3 separate regions of the Homo sapiens genome follow, and regions 2 and 3 are each linked to region 1. The links come from fine-mapping of genetic effects on gene expression. A gene starts in region 1. Each other region holds a variant in brackets. All regions are shown on one strand. Distances are between the middles of the regions. Region 1 holds the start of PITPNM3 (PITPNM family member 3). Region 2 holds the start of MIR4520-1 (microRNA 4520-1). Region 3 overlaps KIAA0753.

Region 1 (2,757 bases):
AGGGAGGCAAGAAGCCTTTTTCAGCTTCCTTGGTGTCATCTCACAGTGCCTCCCTCAGGAGGGGAAAAGGGAGGGGAGTGAGAAGGCTGTTTAGCTGTGTTCCATACTGGCTGTGCCTCACACAACCGGCCCCACCCCGACAGGACTCCTTGGGGACAGAACGGGAGTGCATTCTCAGGCACCTAAATCTTACAGGCTCAGTGCCTGCACAGGGAGACGGGTCCGCAGCCCAGGGTCCCGGGCAGCTTTCGGGCTTGGGGGTGGATTGACACACAGCCCGATGGTATTCACACCCATTCCTTCACTGTCGCGCCCGGTCCTGGGGGACGGCATGGCACCAGCCAACGTCACGGGTTGGGTGTGAGTTCATGGTAGATTCTCACACGCCAGCCTCACAAGAGGCACTGCCGAGACCAGGCTTGCTGCCGCCTACTGTATGGCCGGCCCTGTGGGCACAGCTGTCCTCCACCCGCCTCCCAAGGCACCATCGGGCCCAGAATGTGCCCGATGAGTCACGGGCCTGGGTCTCCCCAGCATGGGCGCAGCAGGGGGGCTGAGTCCGCCTGAGCCCCGGTGCCCAGCTCAGGGTCTGGCACAGAGCAGATGCTAGTGAATGAACGTCGGGCTGGATGAATGAACGAATGACTAATGCCCGCTCCCTCAAACCACAGGCTACACCGTCTGAGCCTGGGGGAGGGCAGAGCCCACGGGACCCCAGAAGAGGCCTCCGCAGCTGAGGCTTTGCGTCCCAGGGTCGATGGGGGAGGGGGCGGGGCGGCCAGCAGCCGGCGCGGCACGGGGCTCCCCTCCTTCCCGAGAAGGAATCTGGGTCTCTGGACTGAGCTGGTGACGGGGGCTGGGGCGGGGGGTTGTGGCGTCCTGGATGGAGAGAGCTGCAGGAGCAGGGGGCGCGTCCCGGTTTGCGTTGGGGTGTGGGACGAAGCGGCGGCCGCGGGACATCCCCTTCGGTGGCGAAGCCCGGGTCTGCCCGGGGCCTCCGCGGGGTGCAGAGGGCTCCCAACGGCGGGACTGGCCCGGGGCGCCGCAGACCTGGCCCTTTCCGGCGGGGCCGTGGAGAAGGGGACGCGGTGTCCCCCGAGGTGACCGGGGGCGCAGGAAGGACGGGGGGCGCGCGGAGCCCCCTCTCCACGCGCGGGAGGTCCAGCCCCGCTACCGCCCCCTACGCCCTCCCGGGACCTCCGCCCACCTGCGCGAGGGGTTCACCTGGGCCGGCGGCCCCTCCTCTAGACGCGCGAGTCCCTCCCCCGGGCCCCGGCCCTGCCCTCCCCGCGCCCGCCCTCACCTGCACGGCCCGCCTTGGCCATGTCCCGGGCGGCGGGCTCCGGCGGCGCTACGCGCGCTCCTCGCGCTTCCCGGGCCCGGCCCCGACCGCCTCCGGCCCCGAACGGACTCCGAGCGCCGCGCCCGCGCCCCCGCCCCGCTCGCCTCGGCTGCCGCCACCGCAGCCGCCGCCGCCTCGCCGCTCCCTCCCGCTCCCTTAAAGGCGCCGAGCGGCGGCCGCGCCCCCCCCCCACCCCACCCCCCGCGCCGCCGGGGAGGGACTGACGAAGGAAGGCGCCCAACGCCGCCCCCGCGGGCCCGCACCCCCGCCCCGGGCCGTGGCCGCCGCGCTCCAGCCCGCTCCGCTCCGGCCCGCGCGGCCACCGCAGCGCGCGAGGGGCGGCAGCCCAGGGGCTCAGAGACGCGGAGACAGCCCGAGACACTGCGGGCCAGAGACGGGGCCCTGGACTGGGAGAGGGGCGCACAGACTATTAGACAGCGCTGGAGAGAGACGCTCCTAGGGCCAGAACGCCGAGGTGGAGGGAGAGAGAGAGAAATTCAGAGGAGACCAGAGACCCAGAGCCCGGCTCCGGCTCCGGGAGAGACGGACAGAGGGAGCGGAGAGAGGAAGGAGGACAGGGATCCAAGGGAGGCCCCCACGAAGTCAAGAGGAAAGTCGCTCTGGGATCAGAGACAAGAGAGGGACCCCCTCCATCAGCCCCCGCTCCAGGGGTTCTGGATCATTTATGGCGTCTGACCTAACCTCAAAAGAGAAAGGATTCCCGTGATTTTAACCCTCAAGGGATAAGTAAAACACTTGCACATCCACCTGGGGTTCTAGGCTGGAGCAGGCTTTGTGGACCCCAGCGGCCTGGTGGTGAGCAGTACCCGCCTTCCACTTCCTAAATCGGGATGCAGAGATTCTAGTGGACAGGCCTTGTGGTCCGGGGAGATATGGGTTATGACTTCTGTTTAGGGGCAGCAGGGATCCACAGTCCAGCCCCAAAAGAGAGCAGGAGATGGCCAATTGTATTTGGCGGTGCCTGAGAGGTAACAACCCTCCACTGAGAGGGTGCCCTGCCTCCCCCAGGAATTGGTAAGGCTGAAGCCCAGTTACCATCTGTAGAGCCAGGCACCCAACCCACCCTGTCCCACTCCACTTAACAGGGAAAAGGTCAACTGGAGAATTCCATCCATGGTCCAGGCTCCAGGGTCCTGCAAGCTCCTCTATGGAAACAGGGCACACATGGGGTTAGATGGGGGCTCTCAGTCCAGTGCCTTCTCTGGGGCTTTGACTCCATTCACAAGATTCCTGCTAAGCAGTCCTCCAGCTCCTGGTTGGTTACCTCCAAGGACAGGAAGCTCAGTATCTTAAGTGAGAGTTCTTCCTTTTATTAATTTTTTTTTTTTTTTTTTGGCTAGTGCTGGCCTTAAGAATGTTCTTACTCGTTTGAGCTGAAATCTACAACCCGCATG
Region 2 (2,757 bases), 98 kb after region 1:
GTGAAAAGGCAGACAAGCAATGATGAAACAAGACAATTTTCTATTGTGATTAGCACTATGAAGGAAATACATGGGTAATGTGATAGAGAATGGAAGTAAGTGGCTTCTTTTGATAAAATGGTCAGGGAAGGCCTTGCTGATTAGTTAACATGTAATCTGAGATATGTGTGAATGAACAGTGATCTGGAACAGGTGCATTCTAGGCAGAAGAACAGCAAATACAAAGGGTGGATGGGAACCAGCTTTGAATGTTCAAGGAACAGAAAGAAGGCCAGTGTGGCTGGAGTGAGAGAGAAGCAATTATATAGACATGGAAGCAGAACGGAAGAGAGGAGTTAAAAGCAAGCAGGGGCCAGTCCACAGAAGGTCTTCTAAGCCACAGTAAGGAATTTGAGATTATTCTAAGGTCAACAGGAAAACATTGAAGGGTTTCCAACAGGGGAACGACATGATGCCATTTACATTTAAAAAATATCCTTTTGGCTTCTGTGTGTAGAATGTGGGACAGTGGTTCTCAACTAAGTGTGATTTTGTCCCCCAGAGGATATATGGCAACCTCTAGAGACATTTTAGTTTGGTTGAAAAGTTGTTGGGAGGGGGTGGGTGGCACATTAGGTGCTACTGGCACCTAGCGGGTAGAGTCCGGGGATGCCACCTGACATCCTACAGTGCACAGGTCAACACCCTCCCCTCTGCCAACGATGAAGAATCACTGGTCCCAAAATGTCAATAGTGCCAAGGCTGAGAAACACTGACAGTTCTAGCAGCTTGGAAAGCTAGAGCATGGTCTACTGGGACAGCGCACCACTTTAAGGAACAGTCATGGAAGAGGGTTACCTTTAAAAGTAAAGAGAAATCATCAAAGAAAACAGCAACACAAATGAGACACAATACCTACCACTCATGGGCCACTATGTAGGAATTTTAACAGTGATCTCTAAGGTAGGCTGTAATAACTGTGGCTTCCCCTATTTTAATAATGCATTGTAACAATTGTTAACAGTGATTAAGTTTCGCAAAAGCACGTGCTGAATCAGTTAAGAAAAACTTAGGATGCAAGCTGAACAAGAGACTCCAGAGAGCCTAAAAGATGATGGAACATATGCATATATAAGAATCACAAGTAACACAATGATACACAGGTCTGGCGACGATATTTCAAACGTATGCAAGCTCATGTGAGAAGCAGAAAACCAATCAAGGACACGCTTTAAGACACAAGGAGGACACGCTTTAAGACACAAGTCCTCTCCCTTAGTCTCGCCCACGCTGGGAAGCTGGTGGGGTCGTGTTTGAATAGCAAAGGTGTGCGAACAAACCAAATTAGGAAAACTGCAGAGTACCTTAGCCTTTCTAGACGCTGCAAGAGCCTTCTCTCCTCCCTGTCCAAATACTAATCCTGCCGGGAGTGAGGCCTGGAAGGAGGC[CCA/C]GGGGAAGCGGGAGAAGAGGTCTGGGCCAAGGAGAGTTCTATCTGCGAAGACTCCAGGCTCAGAGCGCTACTCACCTGTCTCCAGGGCGACGGCAGCGGCCATAACAGGCAAAGACAGCGAATCGCCACCTGCCTAACAGAGGAAAAGCCCGGAGGGGCGGGAGGAGTTCCGGAAACCACGGCTCCCTCTTGCGGTCCCGGGGCACCGAGGAATATGGGGACGGTGGCTCCGCTCATCCCCGGCCAGGCCCGCTTAGCCCGCGCTGGCTCCGGAATGGCGAGGGGGCGGTGCCGGGCTGTGGGAGCGCCTGAGGGGCAGGAGTCCAGGGAGGCAGACTTTTACCCTCAAAAGGAATGAGTCCCAGAGCCTGGCACAAGGAAGACAAGTGTGCAAAGTTGGTGGAATGAATTCGGTGGCCTAAATGTACCTTCCTCAAATGCCACGGCTGACTGGGTCTCCTCGCCCACTTCACCCTCTCTTGCAATCCAACTTGTGAGGCGTGTGTGTGTGTGTGCATGTCCGCGCTTGCCTTTAGATGGAGGTTGGCTTCCCAGCCATCCAGGCTTGCATACACGTGCATAACTCCTACCCCTACCTCGCCTGCCTGCTGTACCAGGGGTTGATTCCTTCTTCCTGCGTGTTTTCTGTCCAAATCCTTTTCTGATTTGGACAGAAAACACGCAGGTGGCACACAGTAAGCGCTTAATAAATTTTCCGGCTACCTGATCTTCTTGGAATTGAGGGCATGCTCCTGTGCGCCCCTCATTGCACAGAGCTCCCTTGTCTGGAAACTCAGCAGTCACCGGAGCCGCCGTCGGTCCTCTCGCTTTCTCTATTTTAAAAAACGTTTCAACCGCTAGCGCTGTTGGATCTCTACCTTTCAGGCTTTATCACCTGGGGTGGAGTGGGTGGTGAGAGGGAAGGGATGGGGAGTCAAGACAGGAGAACGCTCTCGATTTCCCGACCCACCTCCCGTCATATCTCATGTCATATCTACCGGGTGTTCTACCCGGTCCTGTTACTTTTTTTCTTCCGCGAAAGCCCAAATTCCCATCACTGCTCTAGCTCTCTCCCAGATCGCCAAATCCGGATGTCTGTCTCAGGGAACGTCAAAGCAACATGCCCGGATGAGGTCCTCCCCTCTCCCCACCTCCCAGCCCTCTCCTCCTGCCTCCCCCGGTGTCACCCGCGCCTCCTTCCTCTCTTCACCTCCCTCTAAACAAGAATCCGGCGCAGTCAGTTCTAGACCCTGAGCATCTCCCGCGTCCCTGCCCAATATCCGTCCCGCCCCCGATCGCCCGCGTCCTCTTGAACCTGCGGAGCCCTG
Region 3 (2,757 bases), 21 kb after region 1:
ACTAATGGAGCTCAGTGGGGCAAGGCCACTGCCCTTCTGCTGCTCTTCAAGAGCCCAGAGAACCAGGAGCCCTTTCACAGGCTGGCCCCTCCCAAAGGTCACTTCTGTGGTGATCATAAGCCCATGATGATGTGGACACCCCTGAATTTACAGGCTCTGCAGGGAATTCTCACTACTGTCTCACGTTGCTAAAATAAAGAGAGCTCCTCTCAGAAACACAGAAGCGTGATGGAAACCTACACTGTCACAGAGAGCACAGGGGACTTTCTGACTTGGACCCTTCCTCTTGCTGTTGGCCCTGGGGCTTCCCTCAGGCCCTTCCTTCTGCCTTTCAGACCCACTGGCCACAGTGCAGTTCATGCCTCCACCTCCCCCACTCCCCCAACACACACACACACAAACACACTCGGACCACCTTCAGGAAAGCAGGAACCGTGAGCCCAGGGAGGAAGTGGAGTGAGGAAAGCGCTTCTCTCCTCACCATCTCTCCTCCAAACCCCAGCTCCGGCGGGCAGAGGGAGAAGGGACCACAGTGCTGAAATAGTAACAGAACACAAGAGGCAAGGGGCTCCCATGCACATCCTTCTGTCTTCTTCTCCAGTCCCTGGGCCGCCCCAGCTTAGTCCCCAGGAGCACCCTGACCAAGGCTCGCTCAAGGTCAGGAGCAGCATGAGGCTGAGGCCCATGCCCTGCTCTAGGAGGAAGGAAGCAAGTTCTTGCCATCTGAGCTGGAATTGCAATGGCAGCAGTACCTCCAAGATGGAATTATAGTTCTCAAATGGCATTCTATCTCGGGGTCACAAAAGGACATCATAGATTTCTGTGGACTATATGAGATGTGACAGACCCCCCCGTATAAAGTCAATCAGCCTGCCCTTCACCTTTCATTAATTCAGAAGAATTTACTGAGCACCAACTACAAGCTAGGCAGGGTCCCTGCCCTCAAGGAGCTAAACAGACTAGAGGTAAGCACAGAAACAGACAGAAATCCCGTGTGACCAAGCTGTGCCGGTGGAGCGCTCGGAGTGCATTTTCATGTCTCTGTACACTGGGGACGGCGTATGCAACACAAAAACACTGAACTCGTGTGTTTCTGCTTCTGAAATAGTACACGAATAGTTCGTGAGAAAGCTGAAGGGAATTACAGAATGATGTACGGTCAGCCCTTGTTCATGAAGAACAAAAAATTCTAGATGTCTGGGCTGGCTGCGAGGCGATAAACGGGAACTTTTATATTCTAAGGATTTAGCTTCCATTTGCAAAGAAAAATGTTTATTTCTTGCAGTATATTTTTGTGTCTTTGGAGAATGCTCTGGCTGTGGATGTTTGCGATGGGCCAGGGATATAAAGTTGACACCTGGACACTGGGGCTGGTTGAAGCTCCACCCACATGAGTCAGAGAAAGGCAGATCCACCTGGTGGGAGGAGCAGGAGAGAGTGGGAAGATCCTGAAACAAGGCAAAGCCTGGGCTCGGCCTTTCAGGACACAAGCTGCAACAGGAAGTGTGAGAATGGGACTGCCCCAGCACACGCCGAGTGGGGATAGGGAAAGGCAGGAAGATGAGCTCAGGTAAACTCCAAGTTTGTTTGGTCAAATTATCTCCTCCTGTGCCTCGTTTTATTCATCTATACAATGGGAACAATGATGCTCTCCACCTCACAGAGATGAGGTGAGGATTAAATAAGTTACTACATGGCAAGCACGGAGAGCAATGCTCTAGTAGGTGCTCAATAAATGTTAGCTTTTA[T/C]TGTCACTAATTTTTTTCTCGGGGGGAAGGGGTGGCAAATAATCCACTATAGTCATATCACATATAAAAGTATTCTCAGTGGTTTCTGTAAATCACATTTCACTTTGCCTGTGGGAAAAAAAGGAGATGTAAGTTATTTAAAATAGGCACATACTTTAAAATATTGGGTTTATTTTAAAAACTCAGCACAGTACAAACTGCCACACAAATTACTTTATACTAGCAACAACCGGTGCTCCTATTAATTCAAGTGTACACATTTAACTCCCCAGGTTAAACACCCTGTAATTTACCTTGAAGCTCTTTACATTCTGAAGTTATATAAAATTAAGCAGGAAAACATTAACATTAAATGAAAATCAATTTTGCACAAATAAGTGTGATCAAGCAGCTTAAATCACCTGAAATTCTTGTACTTCAGAGAAAAATCCCAGATGACGGCACTGGACAGGTTATAAAGAGTTCCCTTATTCCCTGGGGGCGTCTCAGGCATTCTTTCTGCATGTTTCCTTCACTGAGCCTCAGGCTACGAATTGAGAGAAAGTCTTTCCAGGCAGTGGCCTGATTCTTACGCACATTCCGTTTCTTTTTCTGAATTCAGAGTTTCTGAAAACACAGGCTTTTCTCTTGGAAAACATGATCTGTAAGATGTTGGAGGACCAGGCTATGATGGTTCTTAAGTTTCTTCCTTTCTCTGGGGAGACACAGAGGTCTTCGCGCCATCCATCTGTTCCCTACTCCCACTTGGGTTCCTTTGTGGTATGAAATAGAGACACTTCTGACCTCATCGGAGACACAGCGAGGTCTGTACCTTCACCCAGGCACAGGAGAAGGCCTGGTCCTCTCCTGATTCCTCAAACTTCCTCTGAATCCAGAGAAAGTTTTTTATACCAGATTGTGTCAACACACAGCAATAAAATATGCTGAGGAACTAAAAATGTGAAAATCACCTAGGAATGGAACGTTGAAGAAATGTGTGTCTATTATTGTGCACTGACAGCCAGGGGGC

The links. PIP is the estimated chance that this variant, and not a neighbour inherited with it, causes the effect.
Region 2: its variant is fine-mapped to the expression of PITPNM3 in testis (GTEx, PIP above 0.99).
Region 3: its variant is fine-mapped to the expression of PITPNM3 in whole blood (TOPMed, PIP above 0.99). The same link has a PIP of 0.9 or more in testis.

What each region holds. Positions count from the first base shown.
Region 1 is chr17:6,555,082-6,557,838 of GRCh38, forward strand. PITPNM3 (PITPNM family member 3) reads right to left here and starts at 1,474. Exons shown (of 20, transcript NM_031220.4): 1 at 1,304-1,474. The coding sequence starts at 1,325. RefSeq lists an enhancer at 1-385.
Region 2 is chr17:6,653,387-6,656,143 of GRCh38, forward strand. It overlaps C17orf100 (chromosome 17 open reading frame 100), which reads left to right. Exons shown (of 1, transcript NM_001105520.2): 1 at 1-90. It overlaps MIR4520-1 (microRNA 4520-1), which reads right to left and starts at 2,123; the gene lies at 2,054-2,123. MIR4520-2 (microRNA 4520-2) reads left to right here and starts at 2,063; the gene lies at 2,063-2,116. RefSeq lists an enhancer at 1,721-2,293. The variant CCA/C (reference allele first, on the strand shown) is at 1,428.
Region 3 is chr17:6,576,426-6,579,182 of GRCh38, forward strand. It overlaps KIAA0753, which reads right to left. Exons shown (of 19, transcript NM_014804.3): 19 at 1,722-2,757. Among named protein-coding and RNA genes, the nearest start is that of PITPNM3, 21 kb to the left of the region's middle. The variant T/C (reference allele first, on the strand shown) is at 1,749.